3 separate regions of the Homo sapiens genome follow, and regions 1 and 3 are each linked to region 2. The links come from fine-mapping of genetic effects on gene expression. A gene starts in region 2. Each other region holds a variant in brackets. All regions are shown on one strand. Distances are from middle to middle.

Evidence for each region. PIP is the estimated chance that this variant, and not a neighbour inherited with it, causes the effect.
Region 1: its variant is the best candidate, but not a certain one, in a credible set for the expression of TSHZ2 in whole blood (TOPMed, PIP 0.86).
Region 3: its variant is the best candidate, but not a certain one, in a credible set for the expression of TSHZ2 in whole blood (INTERVAL, PIP 0.79).

Annotation. Positions count from the first base shown.
Region 1 is chr20:53,278,968-53,287,153 of GRCh38, reverse strand. The region is part of intron 2 of TSHZ2 (teashirt zinc finger homeobox 2); the gene reads right to left. Among named protein-coding and RNA genes, the nearest start is that of TSHZ2-AS1, 220 kb to the left of the region's middle. RefSeq lists enhancers at 3,613-4,219, 4,482-5,037. The variant T/C (reference allele first, on the strand shown) is at 5,123.
Region 2 is chr20:52,968,749-52,976,934 of GRCh38, reverse strand. It overlaps TSHZ2 (teashirt zinc finger homeobox 2), which reads right to left and starts at 4,577. Exons shown (of 3, transcript NM_173485.6): 1 at 3,602-4,577. The coding sequence starts at 3,641.
Region 3 is chr20:52,346,346-52,354,531 of GRCh38, reverse strand. The region is part of intron 4 of LOC105372666 (a long non-coding RNA gene); the gene reads right to left. Among named protein-coding and RNA genes, the nearest start is that of ZFP64, 160 kb to the right of the region's middle. The variant C/G (reference allele first, on the strand shown) is at 3,951.

The DNA of each region.
Region 1 (8,186 bases), 310 kb before region 2:
ATACTTATTCACAATATAAAGAAATAATTTGTTCCTACTACGAAGGACAAGACTGGGTGCCCCTCTTTTGTGCACCTGTATCTTTCCCATCACAGCAATGTGTCCAGGCACTACGATTGTGCATTCGCTTCACTTCCTTGTCCCCTAGATGATGAACCTCGGGGAGGAACTGTGTCCTGGTCTGGCATCCTTGGTCTGGCATCTGGTCATCAATTCAGAAGTGTTACGTGTGTGTGTGTGTGTGTGTGTGTGTGTGTGTGTGTGTGTATTTTTGAGACAGGGTCTTGCTCTGTTACCCATGCTGAAGTATATTGGTACAATCATAGCTCACTGCAGCCTTGAACTCCTGGGATTAAGTGATCCTCCCAAGTAGCTGGGACTACAGGTGCACACTACCCTACCTGACTAAGTAAAAATAAATTATTTTTGTAGAGAAAGGACCTCACTGTGTTGTTCAGGCTGGTCTCAAACTCCTGGGCTCAAGCCGTTGATGTTCCTACTTTAGTCACCCAAAGTGCTGGGATTACAGGTGTGAGCTACTGTGCCTGTTTTTACATATTTGAATAAAGCTGTAGAAGATAAAATGTTCTTAGAATTCAAGTTGGAGAGAAGCCGGCTATTTCTGCCCTAAGACCAAAAAAAAAGAAAAACAATAAAGGTGACACCTCCAATCAAAAAACAACTGGATTTTCATCATACCCTTACTAGGGAAAATGCCCTGAAAAAGAATCTCTAATGAAGGACTGTAGACATCTTGAGAACTCTTTTCCTCATCCTGAACTCTGTTTTCTTATTTCACACTTTTGTCTCCACACTTCCAGACCTGACGTCTCTAACTGTAAAGTCTTGTGTTGCCTCACAAAGCCTCATGACAGAATTTTCTTTTAATTAGTGCATTCATAATAGCAACAATAATTCTAATCATTAATAAGCCGCTCACTCCGCTTAGGAACAAACACAAATGGCAAGAAGTCAATGTTAATTTTAAAACACATGTAAACAAGAATCCAGGAAGGCCAAACACATAACCTTTTGGCATTATTAATGGCAGAAAACATTTTCCACTGAGCTCGAGAAGTAAATGCTACAACAACTGCACTCCATATACCTCTACCTTCACTTTTCATAATAAAAATAAATTGATTATTATGTAGCAATTTAAAAAAAAACCTCTGTTTTCCCTTCCCCAAATACCCAAAGCTTCATGAGGGTAGGAATCATTTCTGTCCTACTCCCTGATGCTACAGTAATTCTGGCATATAGTAGATATTCAATCCATCTGTGTTGAATGAATGAATCAATCCAATCTCAAAGATGTCCTGACAGATCCTTTGTGGAAACATATATAACCCTAATGGCTCAGAACATCACTTCACAAAGGAAGCTGGGCACCACTACCATTTCTTTTTCTTTCTTTCTTTCTTTTTTTTTTCTCTTGAGATGGAGACGGAGTCTTGCTCTGCGGCCCCAGGCTGAAATGCAGTGGCACCATCTTGGCTCACTGCAACCTCCACCTCCTGGGTTCAAGCAATTCTCCTGCCTCAGCCTCCCAAGTAGCTGGAATTATAGGCAGGCACCACCATGCCCAGCTAATTTCTGTCTTTTTAGTAGAGATGGGGTTTCACCATGTTGGCCAGGCTGGTGTTGAACTCCTGACCTCAAGTGATCTGCCTGCCTTGTCCTCCCAGAATGCTGGGATACAAGCGTGAGCCACCGCACCTGGCCCCATTTCTCAGATATTGTACTGACCCAACATCTGCAAAAAAATTTCATAAAGTTCTGAATTTTCAATCAAGAATATCTAAATTTTATTTTCATTTTGGTGAAAAATGAATCCAATCCTCTCCTGGATCCTCAGGAGAAGAGACTCCTATCCAAACACTGCTGTATGAAATCACTGCCCGCATTCACGTTTATCCTTGCGTTGAGCTGGTGCTCTGTGATCAACGCAAAAGGACATTTAACTTTTTAATACCGTGTTTCTCACTTTGTGGGGGCTTGCACATTTTCCCAGTTCTTAAGTTTGGGAAATGGTGGTAGCTACAACTTCCCCACTCAGCACAGTGACACCCAAAGTCTGGGCAATGCCTGGGGCCACCATCTGTCTCCTGTGCTTCTGACTCTGCTGAACAGCTTCAGAACGTGGAGCTGGATCCGAATTGCAGCGCCGGCCCTCGTGACAGACCCGGGATGTCTACGATCATTTCCTCTGCTGCCTTTCATATCACTGAACTGAAACGATCAGGCCTGTCAAGAGTAAGGGCCCCAGATGAAAGGCCAGTGCATTAAGACAGAACATAATTGCCAGCTTCTGAGTTGCTGACATTAATCGTTTTACTGAAAGAAGACAGTAGAGTTCCTCTCTCTCTTCCTCTCTCTATTTCTCTCTCCTCTCTCTTTCTCTCTCTTATTGCCATCACACAATGGGGGTGGGGGGGACGGGCGTGTAGGGGGGAAAATCCCAACAAGATTTGCTAATTAAAAGTAATATGTTTTCCCGTGTTTTTGGCAATTTGATAACACAAAACACTTACTTCGGGGCCACAGGGGGAAACAAACGGAGACAGATAAAAAATGTTTTGTGTTCATCCAAGCACAACTATGTTAATGCGTATTATCCCATTAATGTGCATCAACATCGGGAATCGGCTCACCAATGCAAGCAAGAAGCATACACTTATCATCATTTGATAACATGTTTAATGACAGATTGACGGGAGATTTGCAAATGTGAACTGGCATCAGTGTTGCTAACTTCAGCTTCTGCCGCCGCCTGTGCTATGCCAGCATATTTATGTGCATAATTTGATTTCTCAGCCACACTGTTAGTACATTTTTAATATTAACTATGCACGAACAGACAGCCGAACTTAAGTTGCACTGATGGTTGGAGTTCATTAGATTGAAAAAGATGGGCGTGCGTAACTAAGATGGAGGTGGCGGTCCAGCATTCAAGAAGCAACACTTAACAGACACACTCCATTCTCAACAAGCCCAAGCTACACATTTCACGTTGTTCGAGGCGGTAAAACTCTTATGAATGAAGGAAGAAGTGGAAGAAGAGGAAGAAAGCCCCTGCCGGGCATTTGGTCAGGAACTTGACAAAGAGCCCTGGGAATTACTGTACCCGTTTTTACTTTCCTTCTGCCACCTTCTTTCACCCCAAACTCCTCGAAGCTCTACATTCAAGCCTCTTTTGCATATTGCAGTCAATTGGATGGAGCAGGCGAGCACAGGTTTCTATTCATTCTTCATAAACCCAGGTCACAGACCAAGCATGCAGGAAAATCTTCCCTGGATAAAAATAGGGTTAATCTGTTTATCTTGGAGAGTCAGACCAATCTGTAATTGAATTTTGCCCTCATCACAAAACATTTGTGTGACTGGGTAGGATGACCTCACTTTGCTATACCTCCATTCCTTCAACTGTAAAATAGGAATAAGAAAATCACCTACTTCCCAGAGCACGGAAGCTTGAATAAGCTAAAACAAAGAAGTACTAAACCCAGTGTTTGGCACATAAGTAAGCTTTCAGTATATGTTTATTCTTCTTACTATTTTATTTTTTCCTTTTTTTGGTAATTAAAAAATTATAACTCTGCTTCCCAGCAAGCCCTAAAGTCCAGCAGAGCTGGGGTTTAAATCCAAGCTCCACCAGCTGAAAGCTGTGTGGTGATGGTCAAGGCGCTTAATTTCTGTTGACTTTAGGTACTTCATCTGTAAAATAGGGGTGATGACAGGGACCTATCTGGTGTGATGGCAGGAAAGATAAAATGGCATGATGTATGTAAAGAGTTTTAAAGAGTGCCTCGGACATAGTAAGCATTCAATAACTATTAGCCCTGATTTTTTGCAAGAATCAGGACAGGGCATGAGTTCTGGCAGTGATAATGAAGTTTGGCAAATTTGCATTTGAATTCTTGTTCTGCTGCTTCCTAACTGTATGATAATGGGCCACTTACTTAACCTCTTTAAGGCTTAGCTTTTTCTTCTACAACATGGGGACCCATGATCCTACTTTGGAGGATGTGGGAAGGGAATAATGAGATAACACTGGTAGGGCGCTAACTCCATGTTAATTATGATTGTCATAAAAGTTTGTGTCTTCAGGGCTTTGATGGTGCCTGGTACATAATAAATGCTGAATAAATATTTGTTGATTGAACCAGCAAGTCAGATCATTATTAGGCATGTCCCAGGTTCCGTCTTGGGAAAGATTTGTCCAGGGAACAGGATAAGAGGACTGCATGTGTCTGTTCTGATCTGGGAGTGGCACAGTGAGAATGTGTGAAGGAGTCTCGGCAAGGCCTCCTCACGACAGCAAGCAATTGACACAAATCACATGCTTGGCACAGGAATGCCACCTCCTTATACAAAGAGCACTGCATGACGCCACTGGCTAGCCATTTTGTATTTATTCCTTCGAATCACCAGTCTGAAAGGTGCCACTAGAAAAATGCACAGACTTCAGTGTCAGAACCGGCCTTAAATCCTAACTCTGTCACCTGTCAGTCATGGTCACCCTCAGTATGTTACAGACCTTTCTGAGGTCCATTCGGTGAATATGAGTTAAGGATTTTAAATTTTACAGCCCCTGTTCTGCCCTTGAGGGGCTTATACCTGAACCTCGGTTTCCCCATCCATAAAATGGGGGTAATATCGCTACTTAAAGCGTGTGGTAAGGGTTAAATCAGAAAAAAGATAGAAAAGCTCTTGACACAATGCACACAGCAGGTACTCAGTCAATGCCAGTTCCCTCTCCCTCACTGATCTGCATATGAAAGGCTAAGCCAGAGGCCAGGCTTCTCTGATCACTTTCAAAAACGTGATTCCTGTATATTTGCACTATTTTGAATTGCTATGTAAATTAATTATTTTATCAGTGACAATCAGGTGAAAGTCACCTCTTCTTTTGATCCTTTTTTTGGACAAAAGAACTTGATATATTTTAACATCAGCTCTGAGAGGTAGGTGGAGAGTCTACCTTTATTCACAAAGGTAACTTTGGGGAAACTGAGACATTTTTCTATGCAAGTGAGAGCTAGATAAGAACCTGGCCACAGGGAAATGCATCTGTAGAGGACACAGTAGGGATGCCTTTGGATTTTGGATACTATATCCT[T/C]GTGCCCACGTCTGGCTTCTGAGTGTTTTACTTTCTAATAGGTGCACCTGCAGCTCTCTTCTGGGGATGTCCCCTGGTCGCTGAAGCTGCTCTGCCAGTACACACAGAGTGCCCTTGCTGCCTTCAAGTGTGTACCCCTGGCTATCCTTGAGCCAATGACTGATTGATGTGGAGTCAATCAGTCATTAGCCAAGGTAGCCCAGCCCTTGCTTACAGACAGGTGGAACTCTGAGGCTCCCCATGGGATCAGGCAGAGGCTAGGACTTGCTTGGCTTTCTTTCCTTCCCTGTCCTGCTTCCCTACTCCCTTACTGGTTCTTCCTGGGAGCACATTCCTGAGAAACCAGGGATTCAATAGGTTTAATAGCCCAGGAACCCTGATGTCAGGATCTGCTTCTAGGACCCCCACATGAGACACTATCCTACTAGACCATAGGCTGGTAAACTCTAGCCTGTGGGCCAAATCTGGCCCTCCACTTATTTTCATAAATAAAGTTTTATTGGAACTCAGCCATGCTTAATCATTTACATATCACCTATGGCTGCTTTTGTGATACAATGGCAGAGTTGAAGATTTGTAGTAGACACTGTATGGCCTACAAAGCCTCAGACATTTACTATCTGGCCTTTTGACAAAAGAGGTTTACAAACCTCTGTACTAGATAATGCTTTAAATACACCAAGCTTTTTTTGACCTCAAGAACTTTGCATGTGCTGTTCCTTCTGCCTGGAGCCCTCATTCCTTGACTCAGTGGATGCCTGGCTGCTTCTCATTATTTAGGTCTCAGCAAAAATGTCAGTTTCTCAGAAAAGACTTTTCTGACCACCCATCTAAAGTAGCCTTCCATTTCCCCATTTTTTGGCTCAGCATTCTTACAACTAACAGCACTGAAATTATTCTCTTTGATTAAATTGTTTGCTCCATGACAGCAACAGCACATAAACTGCATGAGGCCAGAGGCTTTCTTTGCCTTGCTCATTTCTGGATACAAGCCTGGCATAGTATCTAAATACAGTTTACTTTTAGGAATACTTGCTGACTGGCCGGGCGTGGTGGCTCACGCCTGTAATCCCAGCATTTTGGGAGGATGAGTGGGCGGATCACGAGGTCAGGAGATCGAGACCACCCTGGTTAACACAGGGAAACCCTATCTTTACTAAAAATAGAAAAAATTAGCTGGGTGTCGTGGCACGCACCTCTAGTCCCAGCTACTCGGGAGGTTGAGACAGGAGAATCGCTTGAACCCAGGAGGCGGAGGTTGCAGTGAGCTGAGATCGCGCCACTGTACTCCAGCCTGGACGACAGCTAGACTCCATCTCAAAAAAACACACAAAAAAACCCCCACACACAACAACAACAACAACAAAAAACAAACAAACAAACAAACAAAAAAACGACTTGTTGACTAAATGATGAGAAGAATCAAAAATACCTAAGTGGTTGCATTCATACCAAGTGGATCTTCTAAACCAGGACTTAGCATAGCTAGCTCCATGTAGGTGGTGCCAGGTCACCGATCCCCCTCTCATTTTGGATCCTTACTCCTAATGCGATGGAAACATATTTCATACTCAAGTCACATTAGTGCCCAGACATTTACTACCTCTGGTATTAATTCGCTTATTTTGCCACATTATATCATGGGAGGTCATTTTATGCTATAAGCTGTAATTTTTGAGTTTTATGATATAAATTGACCTGCTTTGGGAACCAGGCTATAAAAAGGATTGCTAGTGAGGAGGTTAAGAAAAAGTTATGTGGCTGTGTTAATGGTTTTAATTGATGCATTAAGTTTATAAAGTTTTTGTTGAGGCCTTCATATGCCTGAGGTCTTCAAGGAGCTTCCTGATAAGGAAGGAAAGGTACATTCACACACACATACATGTCCTGTGTGCAATCCATTCCTGCACACAGGAGCAGAGTCATCTTCAAAAATGCCCATTGGGTCATGCTCTTTCCCTATTTAAAGCCTCTCAATGTATTCAGAGTAATCTGAACTCATTACCATGGCCTGCACAATTGAGTCTGTCACCTTGAGCTCACAGCATTCCAGGGACACTGGCTTTCTTTCAGTTCCCCACAACGAGCCCAGCTCCTACTTGCCTCAGGGCCTTTGCACTTGCTGTCCCTGTCTGAAATCCTCTTCTTCTCATTTGTGGCTCCCTCAGTCCTTCATATGTCAGAAGCTGCCCCTCAAAGGAGTCTTCCTGGAGCACCCAAAGTAAATTAGCACCACTGCTACCCAGGCCCATAATGCTCTATTCCCTTCATGGGATCCTAAATGGCCTTATTTATTTTTTAATTTTGTGTCTATTTCCTCCAACAAGAATGTAAGATCTGTGAAGGAAAGGAAAATGTCATTTTGTTCATTGCTGTATCCTTGGAGCCTAGCACAGTGCTAGATATGAGAAAATACATAAACAACATGATATCAGATAGTTGTAATTTTATGAAGGAAATAAAACAGGGTGACGAGAAAGAGAAAAGTGAGAGAGCTGGATTGCTTTGGATCAGGGGTTGGTGAACTGTTGCCTGTGGGCCTGATCCAGCCTGCCATCTGCTTTCATAGGGCCAACAAAGTAAGAGTGGTTTTTATATTTTTAAATGGTTGAAAAATCAGAAGAAGAATGATGTTTTATGACACACAAAAATGACAAGAAATTCAAATTTCAGTGTCCTTTGATAAAGTTGTATTGGATCATAGTCACTACCATTCACTGGGATATAATCTATCATTGCTTTTATGCTACAATGGAAGATTGAATACAGCTGTCCCTTGAACAACATGAGCTTGAACTGTGTGGGTCACTTATACATGGATTTTCTTCTGCCTCTGCCACCTCTGAGAAAGCAAACCAACCCCTCTACTTACTTCTTCTTCTCAGCCTACTCAATGTGAAGATGACAAGGATGAAGACCTTTATGATGATCCACTTTCACTTAATAGTTAATATGTTTTCTCTTTCTTATGATTTTCCTGACAACGTTTTCTTTTCTCTAGCTTACTTTATTGTAAGAACATTGTATATAACGCATATAACATACAAAATATGTGTTAATTGAC
Region 2 (8,186 bases):
AATAAACAAAATAAATTGAGGGAGCTGTTCTTTCTTGCAAGACTCTTCAGATCTGGGTGATCAGAAAGCCTTTAAGAGTCAGCAAGAGGGAAACATCTAATTGCTTTGGGTGGGCAGGGGCAGAATCCTATAACTTACATATATAAAAGATATATTCACAAGATGTGCTCACAAAAGATTGTGTGTTCTATTGCAATTGGCTGTCATTAATATAAAAGCAGTTCAGTATGGTGAAATAAAATACGTATTATTTATGTGCGCGCACAGAGGCTGAGATAGGCTGTAGAAAATCAAGAGTTAGATTCTAAGTCTACAATTTTAAATTTTTAACCACTCTGCATCCTGCAAAATGCAAACAAATCAAAACACCGTTCTGTTTTACTTTCCTGCCATTTTCTCTATCTCCCTTGAAATGCATAGAAGGGGAAAATGCTGGTACTGAATCCTGCAATATTTTCAGGTAATAGTGGATGTATTTTAATGGTGAGTGAAATATACATCCAAGGAAGCAAGCATGCACACACAACACAAACCCCTGGGGTACTGTAGGCTGCTTTCTCAACTTTTTTTTTCTTGCCCTAAGTAATAGTATGGTGGAATAGCATAGCTTAAGAAAGCCAGGAAGAATGACATTTCAGAGGGAAATACTCTGATTTAGCTGTTTCCTTAAAGAGAATTGTCCCCTCACATCCCTTCCCCCTGAAGGGGGAGGAACATAACAAATAAAGACTAAAATTCCTCATCACTTACAATATCATCTTGTTTATTCTGTTTAGATACCTGCTTTAGTAGAAAGTTCTGTAATTGATTCCTTGAAACATGGAACTTATAACTAATAATACAAAGGAATCAAATTGCCTGGAACAGTTCTTGGGAAAAAGAGCGCTCCGGGAGAGCCTCAGCTCGGATCCACTCACAGGCTTTTTCTATCTCCCATTATTCATTAATCAAGCTAGAAATCAAGCTTTCAACATCAGTCCTTGGGTGTAATTACTTACAGTTGTGCATTGTGTTTAATTTTAAGCAGTGATAAAAGTTAGTATGGCCATAATCTTAGAACCCACCTTCTCCCCTTCCCTGGATGTTAACTGACTACAGAACCCCAAAGTGGCTAACTTTACTTGTGAATAACCACTTCAGCTGAAATAGAGTAGGGCATTGATGACCTTAGATGAACAGAAGAAACACTGCATGAAAAACTGTCTCCTCTATTAATATGTGAGCAAATAAATAAGGTAAGAGGGCCCTCACTGTGTACGAAATGAATCATCCTTTTTCAGCTTAAAAAGGGTTTCCGCTTCTGGTGAAAATAATAAGAATCATACAAAACAAACATACAAAGACAGTAGGAATATAATAGGCCAGAAAACTGAAACTATAGTTACAAGTTTCTAACACACACACACACACACCCCCACACACCCACACACACCAATAAACTAGCCAGCACCAACAGACACAGCTTAATGAAAAGGACCTGATTTAAATAATGTGATACAGTGTTATGTTACGTACACCTGGATCCTTATCGATCGTAGGATAATTATAATCAAAGTCGAGCAATTCTGAGCAATGCACTTTTTGTAATGAGCTTACTAAAGGAGACATGTCCAGTCATTCTGGTAATTTAAATTACTGCCTAGTTGTTGATAGTCTTTACCGGAACAACCAGAAAAAAAAAAAGAGTAATTTTCAGGGCAGTATCACTTCTTGCTGGACCGTAGCCCAGGGTTCTCTTTCGGGACAACAATAAGGACGTTATCTCTAATAATGTAGCTACACTTAAACTTATGTTGCCAGAACTAGATGCAGCAGGCTCACTGTTCCTGGGTCTCAAAGGCCATTGAACACATCCACACGCTGTCAGATTGCAAAGCAGCCTAAGTTTTAGGAAATCAGTGAGTTAAATGCAGAAAGAGACAACGGTAGGAAAGAGACATTGTTTTCCAAAGAAGTAACTAGAGTTGAAAAAAGAAAACCTCACTGATGAGGCAAGTTCCAAATACGTACCTCACTAAAAATATTTTAATTATTTTGCTTTTAGGGAAACGATCAGAAAATATATGAATCCACGCTTTATCAATATTTCTGCATGCCACTTGAACCAACTTACAAATAGGGAAGCAATTCTGTGCTCAGAAGGAATGATAATTGTGGATATTTTGAAACACTCAGGCGAGGAAGGAGGATGAGCTTGGTGGTTCAACACATTCAGACAAGGGATGCCCACTCTCCTCAGATTCCTAACTAACTTTGGATTTGTTCTAAGGGTGACTTTGCAAAGTTTATGAAAGTGTTCCACCAAACTTCTCCCTATGTTTTGCTAGAGTTGGAACAGAATGAAATGTGGAGGTGGGTCTGCAGAAGACCAGTCTTACCTAATGTTGCCTAAATCAAGAGGGTAAAGACAGAGAGAGAGGAAAAAACAACTAAACTTAAGCTTTTTGCGAAAGCCCTGATTCAACTAAAGGACACAAAGAAATAAAAACGCCCACATTAAAAGCCAAACAAGATAATAATTGTGCATGTCTGGCTCTGAATATAGAGGGCAAGGTTTGCGTCACTGGCACTCTGAGTTACCATGGTGAGTGATTTATTGATATATATCAAGAATGAATAGATCAAAGGCAGCGAGATGACAGGTGATCAATCAAATGTCAAATCAAAACTAGCAATCAAGTGGAAAGCTGATTTTTCAGTGGGTGGGTCTGGCAGAAGAAAAATGAACTTTCATATTACATTTCCGAGAAACAAAACCCCAGCATACTATTAAAAAAGCAATTAAGCAACCCAAAAGAAAAAAAAACTTTAGAAGGTCTATTGTACTGATCCATTAACCTGTTCTTATCTTTTTTAGGGGGCAGTAAGGATTCAGATGGGATAGTTTTTACAGTACGAATCATTTCACAAAGTTTGCAACTCTCTAGGCAAAGAAAATCCAGAGCTGTTTAAATTTCTATGGGGAATTTCCCCCCTACAACCCTTTTTGGTTTTTTTAAAGAATAGGGAAATTGTTAATTACATTTCCAAATATGGATCCTTTTAGAAAATATATGCAAAGAGTCATCCATTTCCTGGGGGCATTTTGTCCACCTTGGTGATCAACGCTAAACTCCTATTGCTGGCCCCAAAGCCTGCCTGCAGCCCGAGTGTTAGGTATGCCTCACACTTCAGCGCCCCAAGCCCCAGTGAGAGGAGACGCTATCCCTGGAGGCCAAAAGCCACTGGCACTGACCACGCAGAGGGATGCAGGGGTGGAGGGGCTGTCTCCCTACTCCGCACCCCAAATCCTCAATCCGACTTTGGCCCGAGAGGCAAGAAACAGACTGGAAGAAAGTTAGGGGTGGGGTAGAGGGTGGAGGAAAGAAAGTTTAAGGAGGAAAGGCTTGGTGGGATAGCTCACCCCAACCCAACCGGAGCTTGGAAGGGGAGGATTTGGGAGACCAGAGAAGGCGAGAGAGGACGGGGTTATTAGAAGGGCACCCGGCGCAAACTCCCCCGAAAGCTTAAGTGGGTGGTGCCCCCGGGCACCCAGGGGCAAGGAGGGCGGGCGAGGAGCTCGGCGCACAGGGCAGCCCCGAAGCGGAGCCGTTTCTCTTACCTGCCGCCCGCTTGGGTGCCTGCTGTTTTCTCCTCGGCATCCTCTACTTCGCTCCAGTCCCACTTCTGGCGCCCCAGCCCCGAGCCGCGCGCTGGGGCCCGCTGTCTCTCTGGCCTCTCTGGGTCTCCTCCGCCTCTTGCCCGGTGGCTCCTAGGACGTCACTCGGCCTCTGTCCCCCTGACGATCCCCCCTGCAACTCCTCCACCACGGGCCAGAGACCCCCCTCTCTGGGTGGCAGACACGGGTGGCTTGTGCCGGCTGCTTTGAAGTAGAGGTTGGTTCTGCCTTGTTTGTTTGTTTGTTTATTTTGAATTTTTTTTCCTCTCTCTTTTTTGTTTTTGCTTTTGGAATTTTTTTGGTTTTGTTTTTGCGGTTTTTTTTTTTTTTGGTGACTGTTGAGACACTTGATTTCTTTATTAAACATCCAAGCCCGGGTTCGGATGGAAGGGACGAGGGGCGCACACGCGCCACAGGCACACTCGCGCGTAAAGATAAGGAAAAAAAAAAGGCAATCCTGGGAAGGTAGTGGGTTTCTTCTTTTTCTTCTTCTTCCTTCTCCTCTTTCCCTCCTCCTCCTCCTCCTCCACCTCCTCCTCCACCTCCTCCTTCTTTTCTTCCTCCTCCTCCTCCTCCTCCTCGCCGATCTCTATGGCGGATTCGTGCCGGGGGGAGAGCGATCACTCACTGTAGGTTTGTGGCTGCTGTCAGATCCCCGTCTGTGAGTGATATGCGAGAGGACAGGAGCGGGTTTTGGAAAGACAGAAAATCTGGAATTCACTCACTCACACACACACACAGACACACACACAGACACTCACACACGCACTCACACGCGCACGCACCCCCGCTTCCTCGCACACACACACTCACACCCCCCACATATGCACACACACACAAACACACACACACACCCTCGCACACACACACAAGACAGGGCGAGGCGATGCCAGCAAACATCGATCCCGCTGAACAAACTGAACATTAACAAACTCCTCCTCCTCCTCCTCTCCCCGCGACCTGATGACAGGGAGAAATTTACTCCCCAGCCGCAGAGCGCCAGGCAGCGGGAGCCTATTAAAGGGACAGCGTCCCGCAGGGGAGAGGGGCTGGGGGCGGGGGCCCCGGCGCGCCGGCCCAGGCCCCTCTGTGCGCCCTCTCCGCCGGGGCGAGGGCGTGCCCACCGGGCGCGGGGACACCCCTCCGGGAGGCGGAAGGGGCGGGGGCGGGAGGAAAGGAGGTGAGGAGGGAAGGGGTGCGGGAGAAAAGGAGGCAGTGTGATGATGGCTGAACTCTGAAGCTGGGAGGCTGTGGAGGGAGATTCAGGGGGGCCAGGTTGGCTGACCAGCAGGGACCATGCACAATCTTAGGAGAGGGAGAACTTAGGTTTGCTCGGGGCTGGGAAGGGGGAGGGGACCTTATCCAGTGAGGATCTCCATCCTGTAAGTCTTAACCTGCCCCCACCAAAATGTGCTCCCCACGACCCCTTCAATTTAGTGCCCCTGTCCCTCCCACTTTCTCGCTAATCAATGGGTGGTCACAAAAACAAAAATCTCCCTTCTGTCTACTTTAAGGTCTAATCATATACTCCTCTTTTTGTTTCCTTTGAAGAATGTTTATTGAGCATCTACTATGTGCCTATTCTGGAGACACAGAGGCCACAGAGAAAGGGAAGGTGGTGGCCATGTTGGTATTTATATTCTAATGGGGGAGTGCAGACAAGTGCCCCCCAGCTATCCAATCTTTGCTTAAATGTCCCCTTTTCCCAAAGGTCTACCTCACCTAAAATACACACACACACACACACACACACTCCCTGCCCCATTTCTCCATTTTGTTATTCCCCAGTGAGCTGATCAGTGAGTGTCACACAGGTTATAGACAGTTTTCTATTCTGTTGATTGTACAAGTTCCCCTCTTGAATGTAAGCTCCAATGGAAGGAAGGATTTTTGCCTCTTTGTTCTCTTATATCCCCAAGTGCTGGCAAAGCACAAGACATATAATAAGTGCCCAGTAAAATATTTGTTGAATGAATGAAAAGTAAGCAAGCAAATAAACAGGATACTTTGAGTGATTCGCTCCATGAAGACGTTAAGCTGAGTGCTGTAATAGTGTCTAAAAGGGGGTGGGTGGCTCTAGATTCAATGTAGGATATGGCATTTGAGCACAGAGAGATTGAAACAAACATGTGATTATTGAGTTCTGCTATCGGCCAGGCACCTTTTGAGGTGTTGGGGGCAAGTCTGTGAACAAGGTGAACCTAGACCATGCCCTCAAGGAGTGCTCCTTCCAGTGAGAGGGCAAAGCAACTGAGGGCATTTGATGCAGGCTGGGACTAGAGGTGTTTTTTTTTGCTTTATTATTTTTTTTATTTCAATAGCTTTAGGGGTAAAAGTGGTTTTCGGTTACATGGATGAATTGCATAGTGGTGAAGTCTGGGATTTCAGTGCACCCGTCACCCGAGTAGTGTACATCGTACCCAATAGGTAGTTTTTCAGTCCTCACCCCCTTCCCATACTCCTCGCTTCTGAGTTGCCAATGTCCATGATATCTTTCCATATGCCTTTGCATACCCATGCATTAGCTCCCACTTATAACCAAGAACGTGTGGTATTTGGTTTTTGATCCTGAGTTACTTCACCTAGAATAACGGCCTCCAGCTCTATCCAAGTTGCTGTGAAAGACATTATTTTGTTCTTTACTATGGCTGAGTAGTATTCCACGGTGTATATATATGTGTGTATATACACACAAACACACATATATATACACAAATACACATATATAGATATATATACCACATTTTCTTTATACAATAATCAGTTGATGGGCACTTATGTTGATTTCATATCTTTGCAATTGTGCTGCAATGAATATACGCCTGCAGGTGTCTTTTTGACATAATGACTTTTTTTCCTTTGGGTAGATACCCAGTAGTGGGGTTGCTGGATCAAATGGTAGATCTACTTTTAATTCCTTGAGAAATCTCCATACTGTTCTCCATAGAGATTGTACTAATTTACATTCACACCAGCAGTGGGTATAAAAGTTCCCTTTTCCCCACATCCACACCAATATCTGTTGTTTTTTGACTTTTTAATAATGGCCATTCTGGCTAGGGTAAGGTGCTATCTCACTGCAGTTTTAATTTGCATTTACCCTGTGATTATTGATGTTCAGCATTTTTTCATTATGTTTGTTGGCCATTTGTCTGTCTCCTTTTGAGAAATGTCTATTCACGTCATTTGTCCACTTTTTAATGAGATTATTTTTTTTTTTTTCTTGCTGATTTGTTTGAGTTCCTTGTAGATTCTGGATATTAGTCCTTTGTCAGATGCATAGTTTGCAAATATTTTCACCCATTCTGTAGGTTGTCTGTTTGCTCTGATGATTGTTTCTTTTACTGGGTAGAATTTTTTTAGTTTAATTAGGCTCCATTTATTTATTTATTTTTGTTGCATTTGCTTTTGAGGGCTTAGTCAGAAATTCTTTGCCTAAGCCAATGTCCAGAAGAGTTTTTCTTAGGTTTTCTTCTAGAATATTTATGGTGTCAGGTCTTATGTTTAAAGTCTTTAATCCATCTTGAGTTAATTTTTATATATGGTCAGAGACAGGGATAGTTTCATTCTTCTACATGTGGCTATCCAATTTTCCCAGCACCATTTATTGAATAGGGCAGGGGTCCCGAACCCCTGAACCATGGACTAGCACCTGTCCATGGCCTGTAAGGAACTAGGTGGCACAGAAGGAGGTGAGCAGGTAGGGGTAAGCAAGCATTACCATTTGAGCTCTGTCACTTCAGCAGGGGCATTAGACTCTCATGGGAGCTCTAACTCTATTGTAAACTGTGAATGCAAGGGATCTAGGTTGCACACTCCTTATGAGAATCTAATGCCTAATGATCTGAGGTCAAACAGTTTTATCCCAAAACCATCCACCCTGCCCTGGTCCATGGAAAAATTGTCTTCCATGAAACCAGTCCCTGGTGAAAAAAAGGCTGGAGAACACTGGAATAGACCTTTTCCCAACTTATGTTTTTATATGCTTTGCCAAAGATCAGTTGGTTATAAGTATGTGGTGAAGGTGTTCTTAGGAGGAGTGATTACCCTGAACTTGGCGAAAGGAAGGATGGTTACCAGGCGGGGCTTCAAGGGAAGAGGTAAGTCAAAGCTGAGTCTTACATATAACAAACGGGTAGGCAAAAAGGGAACTCTGATACTGAAGCCCTTGTATCAAAAAGACACCGTGTAAGGCTTCTGCTTCCGCATTAAAATCTCCTGAGGCCCTTGTTAAGATGCACGTACCTGGTCCTTGCCCTAGAGCAAGATTTTCTAACCCAGGCCCTATTGACATTGAAGGTCTGATAATTCTTTGTTAGGAGGGGCTGTCCTGTTCAATGTAGGATGTTTAGGAACATCCCAGGCTTCCGTTGTGACAATGCAAACTGTCTCCAGATACTGCCCAATGTCCCCTGGTAGGCAAAATCGTCCTTGGCTTAGCATCACTACCCTAGATCTTCTGAATCAGAAAATTCCGGATGAAGGCTTAGAGATCTGTATTTTGAACATGTAACCCATCCATCCCTAC
Region 3 (8,186 bases), 620 kb after region 2:
AAAAGTTTAATAGAAATGTGAAAGATATTTTTTAAAAGCAGAGAAAATTTAATATAAAAGATAAACACAATACCTGACATGAAAAATACACTGAATAGGATTATTGGCAGATTAGACATTGCATAAGAAAACATTAGTGAATATAAAGTAACAGGAATATTAACTATGCTAAATATTCCTTTAAAAATAAACAGAACATCAGTAAGCTGTGGGAAACTTCAAGAGTCCTAAATAGATATGCAATTGGAGTCCCTAAAAGCAAAGGCAGTAAAGGTAAAAAAAAATTATAATATTTAAAAAAAGAATGGCAGATAATTTTCCAAATTTTATGAAAATTATAAACACACACATCCAAGAAGCTCAATGAACCCCAAGCATCAGAAACATGAAGAAAATGAGACCAAAGCATATCATAATCAAATTACTTAAAACCAATGTAAAGATAATATCTTAAATGTAGAATAGAAAAAAGATATGTTTACACAGTGTATATACACACAATGTGTGTATATAAAAATAAGATAATATAAAATTACACAATGTGTGTATATATAAAATATACACAATGTATATAAATTGTGTATGTATATTTTATATATGTATGTATGTAAATATAAAAATACACAATGTGTGTATATAAAAATAAGAATAGTCGTAATTTCTTATCAAAAACAGTGCAAGTAAGAAGACAGTAAAACAGCACCTTTAAAGAAATGAGAAAAAAAGGTTTGTCAACCTAGAATTTTATACCCAGTGAAAATACATTTCAAAAATGAAGGCAAAATTAACACTTAAGATTTTATAATCAGCAGAACCACACTAAGAAAAATGTTAAAGGATTTTTTCAGGCCAGGGAAAATGATACCAGATGAAAACTGGAATCTACACAGAAGAATGCAAAGCGCTAGAAATGGTAACTATTGGAAAACATATAATAAATTTTTCTTATTATTTAATTTCTTCAAAAGATAAATTACTGAATGACAAAAACAATAACAATGTAGTGTGGGGTTTATAATATGCGTAAAAGTCAAATGTATGACAAAAATTATTTCTCTCAAAAGGGGAGAAATGGAAGTTTACAATTATCAGGTTCTTATACTGTATATGAAGTAGTGTAATATAACTTGAAGGAAGACTGTGATAAGTTAAAGATCTATACTATGTACCCAAAGTAATCAGTAAAATAGCAAAAGAGTTATAGCTAATAAGCTAATGAAGGAGATAAAATAGAACCATAAAAAATTTTAACTAATCTAAAAAAGACAATAAATGCAACAAAGAATAAATGGAGCAAATAGAAATCAAGTCACAAAATAATAAATTTAAACATGATCATGTCAATATTCACATTAAATGTAAATGGTTTAAGACAAAGATTGAAAGATTTCATTTAAAAAAGACCATCTTAATTCTGCCTACAAGACACCCACTGTAAATACAAAGACACAAATAGGTTAAAAAAAAAAGATAAGTAAACATATACAGTGCTAATGCTAATCAAAAGAAACCTGGAGTGGCTATATTCACCAAAATGTAGAATGTCTGCTCTTAGAAAGATGATGTTAAAAGCATGGAAAGATATGCCACAGACTGGGAGAAAGTATTGGCAAATCATGGATCTGCTAAAGGTCTTGTATTCAGAAGATGTAGAGAACTCTCAAAACTCAATAATAAAAAAGCAAATTAACCCAAAAAGATTTGAACAAACACTTCACGAAAAAATATATGGATAGCAAGTAAGCACATGAAAAGATGTTCAGTGTCATTAGTCATCAAGAAAATTCAAATGAAAATCACAGTGAGATACCAATACACACGTTCTGACAGAATCACTAGAAGTAAAAAGACTGACATACCAAGTGTTGGTGAGGATGTGGAGCAACTGGTAATCTCATACAATGCTGTTGAAAATGTAAACTTGCACAACCACTTTGGAAAACAGCAGTTTCTTTAAAAATTAGACATAAATCTACTATGTGATCCAGCTATTCTACTCCTCAGCATTCACCCAAAAGAAATGAAAGCACATGTTCATGCAACGACTTGTACATGAATGCTCATAATGGCTTCATTTGTGATCGCCCAAAACTCAAAACAACCCACATGTCCATCAACAGGAGAATGGATGAACAAATTGTAATATATTCATACCATGGAGTGCCACTAAACAAGAAAAAGGAATGAACTACTGAGATGTAACAATGTGGATAAACCTCAAAATAATTATGACTAGAGAAAAAAGTCAGAGCAAAAAAAACCAGTACATAGTACATACTATATGAATTCATTTGTTAAAACTACTACACTAGGAGGCTGAGACAGGCAGATTACTTGAGGTCAGAAGTTCGAGACCAGCCTGGCCAACATGGTGAAAACCTGTCTCTACTAAAAATACAGATATTAGCCAGTTGTGGGGGTGCATGCCTGTAATCCCAGCTACTTGGGAGGCTGAGGAAGGAGAATTGCTTGAACCCGGGAGGCAGAGCTTGCAGTGAGCCGAGATTGCCACTGCACTCCAGCCTGGGTGGCAGAGTGAGACCCTGTCTCAAAAAAAAAAAAAAAAACTGCTGGAAAAAAATAAATGAATGTATCCTAACATCAAGCAGATCAGTATTTGCCTGGTCTTGAGAAGGGCAGGGAGAGAAAGAAGGAGTGGGTTACAAAGGGGCAGAGAGGAAACTTTTGGGGTTGATGGATTTGTTCATTACTTCAACGGTAGCGATTGTTTCCCAGGTGTGTACATATGTCAAAATTTGTCAAATTGTACACCTTAAATATGTGTGGTTTATACTGTGTTAATTATATCTCAATAAAGCTGCTTAAAAAGCAAGAGGAAGAGGAGAGAGTGAAGGGAAAGGGCCAAGGGAGGAGAAGCAGCAGCTAATGCAACAGCAGAAGCAACAGCAGCTGCCCCCAAACAAACATCCCCTCAGGTTCCCTTAGCAGAAATAAGTCACATGGCTTTGCCCTATTTACAAGGGAGGCTGAAAAGTAAATGTCCAGGGAGCTCACCCTTATTGTAGAAAGTGGGCTCTGGCATCAAGGGAGAAAGGAATAAACCGGGAAAATGGATTTTCAATCAGTAGCCAACAGTGTCTGCTACTTAAACACTGGGCAATAGATGCTCCTTTAGCTCTGCTTTAACAAAAACTGTTTTACTAAAAGTAACTAATTTCCTCATAAGAGGCATTTTGGATTGTTATATTTGTTTGCCTCTGGAAAACTTATAAAAGCAAAAGTGGATATACATGGTCTAACGACAAGAGAAAAAGTCAAATCCTGAATTCCGGTCTCTCAGAAATAGGATCCAGACTGAGCTTCCCCTCTGTTCACTGCCAGCTTTGCAAGATGTCCACTATGTGGGTATGGCCAGCAGAGGCCTGGTGAAGTAAGGAATATCCTTGGACAGAAGTCAAGATCTTAAGGAGAAAAGCTTGCCATTCTAAGCGTAGCTTGGTTAGTGAGGGCAGGGGAAATTCCAAATACATAATGATACTGACATTCCCAGTTGCTCCAAAGTCAAACCCCTACACGCTCATGTCTGGAGTCAAGAGAAAGCTATAAGGAAAAAAAAAAAGAGCTGTTTGGCTAAGAACTCATTTAGATTTGATCACAAGCAAAATAGACTGGTACCAACAGAGACATACAGGAAAGAGGGGTATGGAGTGGCTTACTCTCCCAATTTGTAGTTGAGTATTAACAAATCACCAGCATTTCAGGATGGAAGTGCATGCAAAACAGGGCCCAGTGAGAGGTGGTGGTCCCCAAGAAAAGCAGTGATGAAACCAGGGCAGGGGAAGGAGGACAAAATGGCCAAGAGACTGACAACCACATCTGTTCATGAGCAGATGAAAAACACCCAACCAGGGAACATGGAGGGCTATGCACCGGTTGACTGTGGGAGGGAGCTGGGTTCTGCAATTACAGGGAATGCAGTCTATTAGCCA[C/G]GCTCTTCTGGTTGAATATAATAGAAACACAACTCAAAATGTCTTAGCAGAAAATAAAAACAACAAAAAAGGAAATGTCCTGACTCATGTCATCAAGTTTAAGGGTTACAACTTTCAGGCGCTGCTGGTGCTCAAACAACACCGTCAAGCAGCTCTGCTGGTGATCCCTGGTCTTGGCTGCATTCTCTAAGTTAGCACTGAACGTGAGCATTTATATTTTCAAAGCTATCAAACGAACCCAGCACAATTAAAAAGAGCACTCTTGGCTGGGTAATTCCAAAATCCGTAATAGAATTGAGTGTTACTGGGTTGAGGGACGTCATGTGTCTGTTTCTGAAGTAACCCCTGTGGCCAAGAGGGTAGAACTGACTAATTGGCTAGACCTGGATTATGCACCCATCCCTGGAGTCAGGCACAGGAGGTCAGCCCCATCATTTAGACACAGACAGAAAGTGGGGAAAAAGGGGTTCCCAGAGGAAAGCCGAGCTGCTGATATCAGAAGAAGGGAAAACAGATGCTGGCCAGGCAGCAACAACAGATTTCCTCTCTGGAGTAAGAGCCAGTTTAACCCAACAGGAGTTCAAGCTCATTCCCCCACACAGGACTGGTCGTCAGGCTAACAATGGCTGGCAGTCTGCCCTCCACAGCCTCTCAACTCTCCTTTCCTTTGTTTCTCTGCACAACTTCACACCATGCGTTCAGGGTCTCTCATGCTGACTCTGGCCTACAGCCTCATATCAAGGAAATACATCAGGTAAAAGCATTTGCTCTATGATGTTAATAGTAATATGTAAACTCATCCCAGGGTGTCTTGCACAACATGGAGGCATCTCCAATGTCCATTCCAACTTCACCTGTGATGCACAGTCTGAGGAGTTTCGGGATGACCTCAGCTACTAATATAAAGGTTAAATTAGGGGGAGAACACTTCCCCAAAAGGAAACTGTGGCATTTTTAGAAAGGGGATATGGGCACAGAGTTGTCCAGAAATAATGAATCTTACTCTATATTCAAAGCTATTAATAACGTGGTGGCTCACGCCTGTAATCCCAGCACTTTGGGAGGCCAAGGCAGATGGATCACTAGAGCCCCGGAGTTCAAGACCAGCCTGGGTAACATGGTGAAACTCATCTCTACAAAAAATATAAAAATTAGCCAGGTATGGTGTTGCACGCCTGTAGTCTCAGCTACTTGAGAGGCTGAGGCAGGAGGATTGTTTGAGCCCAGAAGGTCAAGTCTGCAGTGAGCCATCATCGCACTACTGCACTCCAGCCTGGGTGACAGAGCAAGACCTTGTCTCAAAAAAATTAAAAAATGAACAAACAAAAAACTATTAACAGTGTTAATAGTAATAAAGGATGACTTCTTATTTCTACATTTTACTTTTAATTTTTTTTAATTTTTCAAAAACATGCATTCATTCCAATATTATATAAAAGGAAAAACATAGTACATTTTAGATAACATTATCCTCTTTCAGCACTGATTGTTTTCATCAGTAAGATTGTATTCTAAGCAAAAATTTTCAAGTTCAGAGGAAATGATACCACTGGCTTGACATCCTGGAATTTGACCATCTATTCCAAAGTTATTTGAATGCCTCTGGCAATAATATCTTGCAAAAAAAAAGATTCTATGACATTTCTTTTTTCTAAACCACATCAGATTTTTGCAGAAGATGGGACACAAATTATGAATAAATCAATCAATATTTGTTTCTCCTGTTCTTCTGAGAGCCTGTCCTGGTTCTATTTTCTAGGGTTCATTGGAAATAAGTTCTTTAGGGGAAATCTCATGGTGTCTGGGATCTTTTTTTATTTCTTCATTTCCTTTCTTGTTAAGCCATATTACTCATAATGGCAGAGTGCTAGCTGACTATATAAATTTGCCCCTTTCTGTTTATCCTGTAGTTGCCTGTCAAAGCAAATAAGCCTGTTTTGCATTAGAGCTTGGAAATTAAATTGTGGGAGAGTAAGTCCCTCTAGTTAAGGTAAACCAGAGTGGTGTGAGTTCATACCCAAAGGAACAAGAAGCAGAACATCTGTATCTGTGGCAATTAGGCGACCTCGGAGTAGGAAGTGAAAATTTTTCCAAAGCACATTTATATACCCAGTGTAGCCAATCAGTTTTCTAAATATAAAAGCATCTGTTTTTAACCATCTTACCTTATCAAGACTGTGGCTGTAAAAGTTAATTCTCACTGATGCCATTCTCATAACTAAGAAGAAAATCTCACTTCCTACTTACTTCCTCTACCACTGTGTCATAACTTTAAATGGAATCCAAATCACTAAGAGTTTCTCTCTTAAAATATAGAAGCACAGAAAAAAGTGCTTCTGATTATGGCTCTATGTTCTTAACCCTGAACACCACTTCCATATTTTCTGGAACACTTTACATTTATCACGAGTTAATAGTAGTAAATATTATTGAGTGCTTGCTATGAACTTTCAATTGCTAGGCCCTTGATATACATTACCTTTTTTAATCCATACAACTCTAAGCGGTTAGCATTTTATGCTTATCTTACAAACACCAAAATTGAGTTTCAGTTAAGTAACTTTTCAAGTGGAATTCATCCATTTTTTTAAATATACATTAAAATAAATATATAACTCTGAAAATAAAAAAGCACTTCATCCATGTACTGTGTGAAACTTATCTCTTACTACTTGTTGTATATGTACCTCAGATTTTGAAAATTTTAAGGGAAAAGATTTTTTTGATCTACTGAATGCCTTGATGTGCCCACTCCTGCATGTGTGCATTCCAAACGGTTAATTGCATTTGAGCTACACAAATGGAATTATTAAGTTGTATTACTAAGACCAAACGCAAGCAATGGGCAGTGCTCAAACTTGGACCCAGGTCTCTCTGAGGAAGATATGGAAGCCAGCATTAATCCATAGGCTGGAACTCAGGTGTATACATTACAATCCCAGCTCCACCACTCACTAGCTGTGTGACCTTAGACAAATTAGTGAAATTCACCTTTGATTTCTTATAGCAGTAGATCCTACCTTGTATTGGCACCATTCCTCTAAAGATTAAATGAGGTAAAGCACATAGAGGCAGGGTCTGGTGCATGGCTGGTTCTTATGGTAGTCAGCCTCCAAGATGGCCCAGGTGATTCTAGCCTCCCAGTAATCATATTCTTGTATACACCCCTCTCCCACTAAATAGGACTGAACTGTGTAGAAAACTGTGGAGGTGACAGTGGTGTGATTTCTGAGACCAGTTCATAAAACACTTTTTAGCTTATGCCATGGTCTCTTAGCTCACTCTGGAGGAAGCCATCCATCATGCCATGAAGATACTCAGGCAGACTTCTGAAAAGGCCCATGTGGAGAAGAACTGAGGCCTCCTGCCAAGAGCCAGCACCAGCATGCTGGCCCCCTTCTTGGAAGAGTGAGCCTTCTTGGAACTGGATCCCCCAATCCACCATAATCGACCCTTCAGATGACAGTGACCCCAGTTGACACTTGCACAGCAATCTCATGAGAGACCTCAAACCTGAACTACCAGCTAAGCCACTTCTGAATCCTAGACTCACATAAACTGTGAGGTAATAAATGTTTACTGTTGTTTTAAGCCATGAAGGTTTGAAATGATTTGTTACGCAACAACAGACAACTAATGCAGTGCTCCAACAAACAGCATGTTCTTTACCAAAAAGCATCTTTCCACAAAGCAAAGACCTTTACAATAAACTTTAAGCTTTCTAGAACAGAGTAGGAGATGCAAATAATGGGATTTTTTTTTTTTTTTTTTTTTTAGGTTTGGGGGTTTTGAGTGGTACTATTCAGGTGACCACATGCCTGCACACAGGATCATATCCATTGAGAAGTTCCAAATTCCATTACTAACACCACCAGTTTGGACACCCACCCTAATACAACTACAAATCAGCAAACTAGTTTGCATTTTCAATATCCATCTGCAGATCCCAAATATGCCATCTTTCCCCCATGATTTCCACCATTCACTGCCTTGTTTCTTTTCTTCTGATTTCTCCCAGAAGCCCAAAGCAATGAAAGAAAAGCATGCAAAGCAGTATTTGCAGTGAAGAATCTGGTTTTTCCTATATGTTGTATCTTCCCCATTGGCAGCACGCAGCAACGGGCACAGAGGGAACAAGAACAGGATTAATAGTTTTGTATTAACAAGACTCACAGTAGTAGCAGTGTTAGCAGTCACATCAAAATAAATCACTATCTCATCAACCCATCCAAACAC